Linked DNA regions of Homo sapiens: region 1 is linked to region 2. Evidence: fine-mapped expression QTL. A gene starts in region 2. The other region holds a variant in brackets. All regions are shown on one strand. Distances are between the middles of the regions. Region 1 holds the start of MIR3127 (microRNA 3127). Region 2 holds the start of KANSL3 (KAT8 regulatory NSL complex subunit 3).

Evidence for each region. PIP is the estimated chance that this variant, and not a neighbour inherited with it, causes the effect.
Region 1: its variant is the best candidate, but not a certain one, in a credible set for the expression of KANSL3 in whole blood (INTERVAL, PIP 0.66).

Annotation. Positions count from the first base shown.
Region 1 is chr2:96,795,406-96,799,753 of GRCh38, forward strand. CNNM4 (cyclin and CBS domain divalent metal cation transport mediator 4) reads left to right here. Exons shown (of 7, transcript NM_020184.4): 2 at 1,607-1,750; 3 at 2,108-2,242; 4 at 3,652-3,821; 5 at 4,147-4,243. It overlaps MIR3127 (microRNA 3127), which reads left to right and starts at 2,873; the gene lies at 2,873-2,948. The variant T/C (reference allele first, on the strand shown) is at 1,953.
Region 2 is chr2:96,636,477-96,640,859 of GRCh38, forward strand. KANSL3 (KAT8 regulatory NSL complex subunit 3) reads right to left here and starts at 1,836. Exons shown (of 21, transcript NM_001115016.3): 1 at 1,807-1,836; 2 at 445-709. The coding sequence starts at 659. RefSeq lists a silencer at 1,556-1,765.

The sequences.
Region 1 (4,348 bases), 160 kb after region 2:
TGTTTTTTGACCAGAACCTGTAGTGGGAAATACATATATCATAGCCCCTGGCATGTGTGTGAAAAACTTTCACAATGCAGTACCCCCCCCCCCATCACATGGGGTGTATTGTGAGAATTTTTACTTTAGTCATGAGACCTCACATTCTCTCTGCTCTCCCTAAGAGGCCCTTAGAAGTTCTTAACAGCCCATCTTGGGCTGGGGGATTTTCTGTGGCCTTAAAGACCTGGAAAACATCCTCCACCGAGGGTATTTAGGATGAGTTCTTTAGTCCCTAGAGCGAGGCCCTTGGATTGTGAAGGGGAAGCCATGCAGAAGACCCTGACTTGACCTTCCCAGATTTCCGGGGGCCTTTCTTCCTAGGCTGCTCCAAACCTGTGTTCCTGCGAGTGGGGTATGGCACACAGGACTCATTCCACCTAGACTGTGGACCTAGCCCTTCTTGGCTGGACCCTCTTGCCACTCATGGGGCTGGGGCCATAAGAACAGGGTGTGGCCTTCAAAAAGGGGTCTGGGAAGACCCACCACCCCACAGGGTTTCTGTGGAGGGTCCTGCCCCATGCCAGCCTCCTTCCCTCACTTTGGGTTGAGGGGGTGGCCCCTCTCTAATTGTAGTCTCTGCCCCACCTAATCACAGTGCTCGGCCTCTCTGTGCCCTTGTCAGTTTGGGTCTTTCCCCTCCCCAAGAGTTCCAGAAGCCCCTGATAAGTGATACCAGACAGGGTCTTTTTTTTTTTTTTTTTTTTTTTTTTTTTTTGAGACAGAGTCTTGCTCTGTTGCCCAGGCTGGAGTGCAGTGGCGTGATCTCGGCTCACTGCAACCTCTGCCTCCCGGGTTCAAGCAATTCTCCTGCCTCAGCCTTCCGAGTAGCTGGGACTACAGGTGTGTACTACCACACCTAGCTGATTTTTGTATTTTTAGTAGAGATGGGGTTTTACCGTGTTGGCCAGGCTGGTCTCAAACTCCTGGCCTCAAGCAATCTGCCCGCTTCAGCCCGTCCAAGGTGCTGGGATTACAGATGTGAGCCATTGCTCCCAGCATTGCCATTTTTATCCGATTTAAACAAGTAGTCCTGGCCTGGCGTGGTGGCTCATTCCTGTATTCCCAGCACTTTGGGAGGCTGAGATGGGAGGACTGCTTGAGCCCAGGAGTTTGAGACCAGCTTGAGCAACATAGCGAGATCCATCTCTACAAAAAATAAAAGAGTTAGCCAGGCATGGTGGAGCACACCTGTGGTCTCAGCTACTCGGGAGGCTGAGGTGGGAGGATCTCTTGAGCCCAGAAGTTGGCGGCTGCAGTGAGCTATGATTGCGCCACTGCACTCCAGCCTGGGTAACAGAGCTAGACCCTGTCCTTCCTCCACAAAAACAGAGAAAAACAAAAAAGTGGTCCTTAACGACATGCTTTTAAAAATTACTTTTAGTTTTCCTTTTCATAAAAGCAATGTCTGTTTGCAGTAGAAACGTCAGGAAAGATGGAAAAGATAAAAACCACCATGACCCCATCCTGGTGACTTATGACCCTACGTCTAGAGTTAATGTTTTGGTTGAGGGAGTCTCATGACTGGCCTCTGGGCTCTTGTCTGACTTGCTGCATTGTCCCACAGGGAAGTCCCACCTGGCCATCGTGCAGAAGGTAAACAACGAGGGTGAGGGTGACCCCTTCTACGAGGTCCTGGGCCTGGTCACCCTGGAGGACGTGATCGAGGAGATCATCAAGTCGGAGATCCTGGACGAGTCCGACATGTACAGTGAGTCCAGCCTTCCACAGGGCCCAGGACCCCTTTCCTGCTTGGATCGAAACTTGGTGTCCCTAGCTGGAAGGGCCATAGTGCAGGGACACAGGAGGCCTAGCATCCAGAGGCCCAGTGGCTGGGTGCCCTGCACTGGCCGGGGTGAGCAGGGAGCAGGTTGCTGAGAGCAGTGCCCGGAGGCTGCCTTCACCCTCGGCCT[T/C]TGTGCCTCGGCGTCAGCCCAGGACCCTGCCAGCCAGAGCCTGCTGCTCCTGCGTGGGACTAGGGGCTGGAGAGCAGGAGCTGCGGGGCGGGTTCCAGTCTCTTCCTAAGTCCTCAGGGGTCTGTGTTCTCAATTCCACGCTCTTCTTCCGGCAGCTGACAACCGAAGCCGGAAGCGGGTGTCTGAGAAGAACAAGCGTGACTTCTCTGCCTTCAAGGATGCGGACAATGAGCTCAAAGTGAAAATCTCCCCGCAGCTCCTCCTGGCCGCTCATCGCTTCCTAGCCACAGGTAGCATGAGGAGGACCTTCCGGTCTTGGTGGAAATACGGTCACGGGGGAGAAGTCCTGGGTTTCCGGCTGCTTTCCCCCCATAGGACGAGGGCTGCAGCAGGTGAGGGGTGCAGAGACAACACAGCCACCCCTGGAAGGGGCCGGGTATCTGCTCCACCCCTGGGGATCTCCCTGCGATTCATTTGCCATTAATGGGCGGCTACTGCAAACTTCTAGGAAGCATCCAAGTTACTATATTTAATAGTTTGGGAAATAATGACTAGGCACTATGGCTTATACCTGTAATCCCAGCACTTTGGGAGGCCGAGGCAGGAGGATTGCATGAGCCCAGGAGTTCGAGACCAGCCTGAGCAACATGGCGAGACCCCATCTCTACAAAAAATACAAAAGCCAGGCATGGTGGTGCCCTCCTGTAGTCCCAGCTACTTGGGAGGCTATGAGGTGGGACAGTTGCATGTCTGTGGTCCCAGCTACTCAGGAGGCTGATGTGGGAGGACCGCTTGAGCCCAGGAGTTTGAAGCTGCAGTAAGTTGTGAATGCACCACTGCACTCAGCCTGGGCCACAGAACAAGATTCTGTCTCAAAAATAACAAAAAAGAAAATAACCACTGAGGTGGGCCCCTAGGCTGGCCAGGCCCATCAGGGCTTGTGGAATGGGAAGGAGAAGGGACGCTTCCCCTTCTGCAGGCCTGCTGGGTGTGGCTGGACCCCTCGTGTGCTCACCCACTCTGAGGAGCTTGCATCCAGCTCTGCTCTTACTCTCCAGCTCTCCCCTTTGCAGACGTGTGCTGGTTCCCGCAGGAATTCACTTCTAGTTCAGAGACATTTCTCTCTTTTCAGCCCTGATTCAAAGCTCCACTGGGGACTTGGGTGACAGGTTCTGCTCTGCCCGCTCTGTCCCCCTCTTCCCCTGGCCCAATTCATCTTCCTTCCCACCCCTTACTTGCTAAAGGGGTGGCAATTCCCTCTCCATTATTTTTCCTGTGGGATATTGATGCTGATGCAATAATTATAGTCTATATATTTTAGTATATATGGACAGCACATATATACTAAGTGCTGTCCATGTGCTATCCCATTCACCCTCACAACCACCCTGTGAAGCTTTTACCCCCATATTACAGATGAGGAAACTGAGATGCAGGTTAAGTAATTTGCCCAAGGTCATGTGCTGTTCTTGCAGGAGCCACTGTTCAAGCCCAGGCAGGCAGGCAGCCTTGTATCCAACCAGTCAGAAGCCAAGCGTGCTCCCTCCCCAGGGAGGTGCAGAACGAGGGCCGGCCGAGCAGGGCGGGAGTCGTCTGAGCACAGCGTGGCTGCTGTGGTTGGGGTGGAGGCACAGCAGTGATCGAGCTTTAGGGCCACCTGGCCAGCCCCGTGTGAGGTCTCTTCTCTCTCCTCCTACAGAGGTCTCTCAGTTTAGCCCCTCCCTGATATCAGAGAAGATCCTGCTGCGGCTACTCAAGTACCCAGATGTCATTCAGGAACTCAAGTTTGACGAGCACAATAAGTACTACGCCCGCCATTACCTGTACACCCGAAATAAGCCGGCCGACTACTTCATCCTCATCCTGCAGGTGAGCCCGCTCAGCCCTGGGCCTGCCACCTGCTCCCCCTGGCACTGCAGCAACCCCCAGGCCCTCTCTCCCACCTGCTGCGGAGGTGCATGGCTTCCCTGCCTGGGGAGCCTGCTGCCTGCCCTTGAGCCCCGCCTGCCCCACGTGGCCATCCTCTCCCTGAGAGGCCACTCTTGATCTCACAGGTCAGGCCCCTGAGCTCTCCAGGGCTCCAGTACCGGCCCTTCCTCCTGCCCCACTGTCCCTTGTTCCTCACTCCCCATCCTGCCTCATCCTTTGTTTCCTCCCTCACTTGGTCTCTAACTCCAGCCCTGTGTTTTTTCAGGGGAAGGTGGAGGTGGAGGCAGGGAAGGAGAACATGAAGTTTGAGACGGGCGCCTTCTCCTACTATGGGACTATGGCCCTGACCTCGGTCCCCTCCGGTGAGTTGTTGGGCATGGTCTTTGCTGCCCTTTGGCCCCCCTGCAGCTGGGGAGCCATGGACCGACACCAGAACTGAGCATGGGCCCGAGAGCTCATAGCCAGCT
Region 2 (4,383 bases):
CCTTCGTGTGTGAAACCAAGAAAAGCAAAATGCATTACTATAAAAAGGCTATTGTTGCCACTGTCAAGCAACCCAGAGCACTGGACTAATGTGATAAAAGAGTCGTATCCTGTGGGTAATCTTTTAAAATCAACTTTTCAGTCTTTTTCTTCACCAGTTAAATAACCCTCTACGATTTTCCCCTTTCCACACGTCCTACTATCTAAGTGGAATAGGTTGTCTGCTTTTCATTTGCACGTCTTGCTTTCCTAACTCTTGTTAGCTGTCTCACAGAGATAGCCACATTCAAGCCTGCTATCCTTATGCTGCTTAAGAGATGCCTGAATTTAACATCCAAATGCCTCATACAATCTCCCCCAGTCAATCCTGAGAAAATCCTCTCTAAATTCCCATCTGATCACTGCCCAGTGAGGTTACCAGCAGCCCTTAGAAGCCCCAACTCACATGGTACTTTCGTGCTGCCGCCGGGGAGTGACAAAGAGCATGCGGGTGGGGCGGGCACTACTGGCATCTGGGTGGGCACTCCAAGGCTTGGCATAGCTATGATCCAGAAAAACCAGGTCCAGCTCCCGTTCATGCACTGAAAGCTGGAAGAGCAGCGAGGTGCCCATGCGTCGAGCTGAAGTCTGGAAGTCCCTCTCCCCACCCCGGTGGGCCATGTCAGTGGAGGGGCAGAAAGTCAGAGCATGGGTATCTGCATGCTAGTCACCTGCAGTGAAAAGTTTCAGTTTAGGTCAATTCCAATATCCTAAATTTCTCCCAATCTACACCATCTAACATGCTTACTTTTGTAACCTACTATCATTCCTATTGAGTATCCATTTCACGGCAGACCTCTGGTGGGGACGGTTCGTGGAATCCCACACCAACACCAAAAAAAAAGAAAAAAAAAACTATGGTGCCACGAGTTGTCCCATACTCAACCTCTAGCGAACTGAAATTACCTAACGGGAGAGCTCACCGACCCCAAGGTTCAGAAAGACCTCGCGTGGACAGACAGTAAACTTGCTTGGCCAGCACCACTTCCTAGGTGGGCAGGAAGGGTTTTGACAAACAGGAAATCACAAATATGAATTCGTTGAAAGCTAAGGATCTCTGTTGCTTCACACCATCCTCTAACGACAATGCGAAGGGAGCCGGGGCCGCAGCTAGAGCGTGGGCACCCCTAAAGGGCAGGGCAACGCCGGCCTCAAAAAAGCGAATCCCAGCTAGGGCTCCACTTCTTCAAGCCTCTCGTATTGTGCGAAACAAAAGTTCTGTTAAGTACTTCGTAATATTCCAGAGTTGTTTACATAAAAATGAAAACTGCCCCCCCAACAAAGCCTGTGACAAAATGATCCCCGTGGAAGCCCTTTCACCCTCACCCCCAGTGAGGCGTCCCTAGCAAACCGCCCAGGACCCCGGCTGCCCCGCAGGCGTTCCCGCCACTGAGCCTCCACACGGCCCATCTAGGAGACAGGGCTATGACTCGCATTTTACAGACGAAGTCGCCAGCTCGGGGAACTGAAGCGATTTGGCCAAGGTCATCCAGAGTTCGCGACGAGGAGGAGCCGCCTGGCCCCCGCCTCCCGCCTCCCGCTCCCTGGGGCAGGGCTCGGCGTCCGCGTCACGGAGGCCCAGACGCGGCCCCTGCCAGCCCGCCCCCGGCCCGACCCGCCCCGCCCGACCAGCACCGGCAGCCGGCCCTAGCCCGGGCCCCCGCATGCCCCGGGAGCCCTGAAGCCCTCGCCGAGACCCCCGGCCGTCCCAACCACGGCCGCGATCCCCACGGCCCGCCACTCCCCTCGAAGCCAACGCTGCTCTCACCCGCGGTCTTACGGCCGCGCGCTCGGCCACGGCCGGATCCCTAAGCGCGTGCGCGTTAACGCCTCCACGCCCCGGCGCTGCGGGCACCGAGTAAAACGCGGAAGCGGGTTACGGCCTGGGAAGGGAGAGGCGGTGAGCGGCAAAGCCCGGAACGGATGAAGCTCCGGCGCCTCTGTCCGGAAGAGGAGAGCCAAGAACACGCGAGCATGTCCGAAGCAGAAAGTCAACAACTAGGCTGGAGTTTCCCCCTCGCGCATATTCAGTAGGGAAAGCGAGGGCGGAGGACTAGGCTGGCTTCTACGGCCCCAGTTCTCGCCACCCCCACCGTGTTGGTCCTTTGTGCCCTCTGGGCGGTCGAGCACCCAACGGTCCACCTCCACCAGGGCAGCCACCTGAATTTACTCATTAAGAATTTACCTAATGTGGCTCACGCCTGTAATCCCAGCGCTTTGGGAGGCCTAGGCGGGAGGACCTCTTGAGCTCAGGAGTTTGAGATGAGCCTGGCCAATATGATGAGACCCCCGTATCTACAAAAAATTTTAGAAATTAGGTGTGTGTGATAGTGGTGTATGCCTGTAGTCCCAGCTACCCGGGAGGCTGAGGTGGGAGGATCACTTGAGTCTGGGAGGTCCAGGCTGCAATGAGCCATGGTTGCACCACTGCACTCCAGCCTGGACGACGGAGTGAGACTACGTCTCAAAAAAAAAAAAAAAGAATTTTGTTACTGACCCTAGATTGTTTTGTGTGGTTAACTTTCCTATGTGTTTTGTGTAGAGAGAGTAGATCCTCAAAATCAGGGACATTAACCTTTGTATCCTCCAGAGAACATACACCCAGAACATAGGTAATTGTTCAAATGTTGACTGATCAATAATTGGTTATTTGGTTGACTGACTGACAACATGACATCAAGAGACATGAGACAAGACAGCAAGAGACATGGTTCAAGATGATAAATCTCACCCGGGATCTGTGGCTCATGCCTATAATCCCAGTACTTTGGGAGGCCAAGGTGGGAAGATTGCTTGAGCCCAAGAGTTCAAGACTAGCCTGCACAAAACAGTGAGACTTCGTTTCTATTTAAAAAAAGAAATGGCCGGGTGCGGTGGCTCACGCCTGTAATCCCAGCACTTTGGGAGGCTGAGGAGGGTGGATCACGAGTTCAGGAGTACAAAACCAGCCTGGCCAACATAGCGAAATCCTGTCTCTACTAAAAATACAAAAATTAGCCAGGTGTGGTGGCGCATGCCTGTAATCCCGGCTACTCGGGAGGCTGAGGTGGGAGAATCTCTCAAACTCAGGAGGCAGAGGTTGCGGTGAGCCAAAATCGCGCCATTGCACTCCAGCCTGGGCGACACAGCAAGACTCTGTCTCAAAAAAAAAAAAAAGATAGGTACAGACATGCAAACACTCGAAACATTCAGAAAGCCACTCAAAGCTGTGTTCCACAAAGATGAGAGGGTAAACTGAGAAGACGGAAGGCATAGGATCGGGGAAGCAGGGTCTAACACAAGAAGCAGACGAGGAATTCTGAAGGTGATGGCAAAGAGTATCCCAGGACAATAGCTATGCTGCAGGACTGGGGACCACTAGTCTCAGCTGGGGGAGAAGAGAAGACCAGGAGGGAGAGCCCCGGGGAAAACAATAAAACTGGGAAAATGCCTCATAGATTTGAAAAAATCAAGGAATGCTATTTAAAAGTGCTGTTTAGAAATATGGAGCTTAAGGCCATAGAAATTATCACAAATAGAGCAGCCCCTGCCCCACCTCTCCCTACCCTTAACTTTGTCTCCTGGGCGCTTGTTTGGGGCCAGGGTTCTGCTATTTCTCTACTTATATTCCCATTCCCACTAAAAACAGATTTGTATCTTTTCTCTGCCCCTTCCTTTCCTCAGCACACCACGTTTATCATTTTGTTTCATTCTTTGCCAATTTAAGAGGTGATAAATGGTATCTTATCCCATTTATTTGCTTATTAATGAGTTTTTTGTTTTGTTTTGTTTTTGTTTTTTTGAGACAGAGTCTCTCTCTGTCGCCCAGGCTGGAGTGCAGTAGCGTGATCTCGGCTCACTGCAACCTCCACCTCCCTGGTTCAAGCGATTCTCCTGCCTCAGCCTCCCGAGTAGCTGAGACCACAGGCGTGTGCCACCATGCTCGGATAATTTTTTGTATTTTTAGTAGAGACGGGGTTTCACTGTGTTAGCCCGGATGGTCTCGATCTCCTGACCTCGTGATCCGCCCGCCTTGGCCTCCCAAAGTGCTGGGATTACAGGCGTGAGCCACCGTGCCCAGTGAGTTTGATTTTTTTTTTTTACATCTTTTTTGGCTTTTGAAACCAATTTGGCAAAGTCATAAATTGTATTTCATTGTATTTCTTTGATTATTAACAAGACTGAGGGTTTTTTAAAAAAAATTTTTTTTTGTCATTTTGGGCAATTATCTGATAGGAGCTTTGCCTTTGTTTTCCTTTGGGATAGTCATCCTTTTCTTATTAAGAGCTTGCTCTATAAACATTTATTAAATAAACTGTTGGACATTAAGTATATTGAAAATGTTTTCCCTGCTTTGATATTTGTC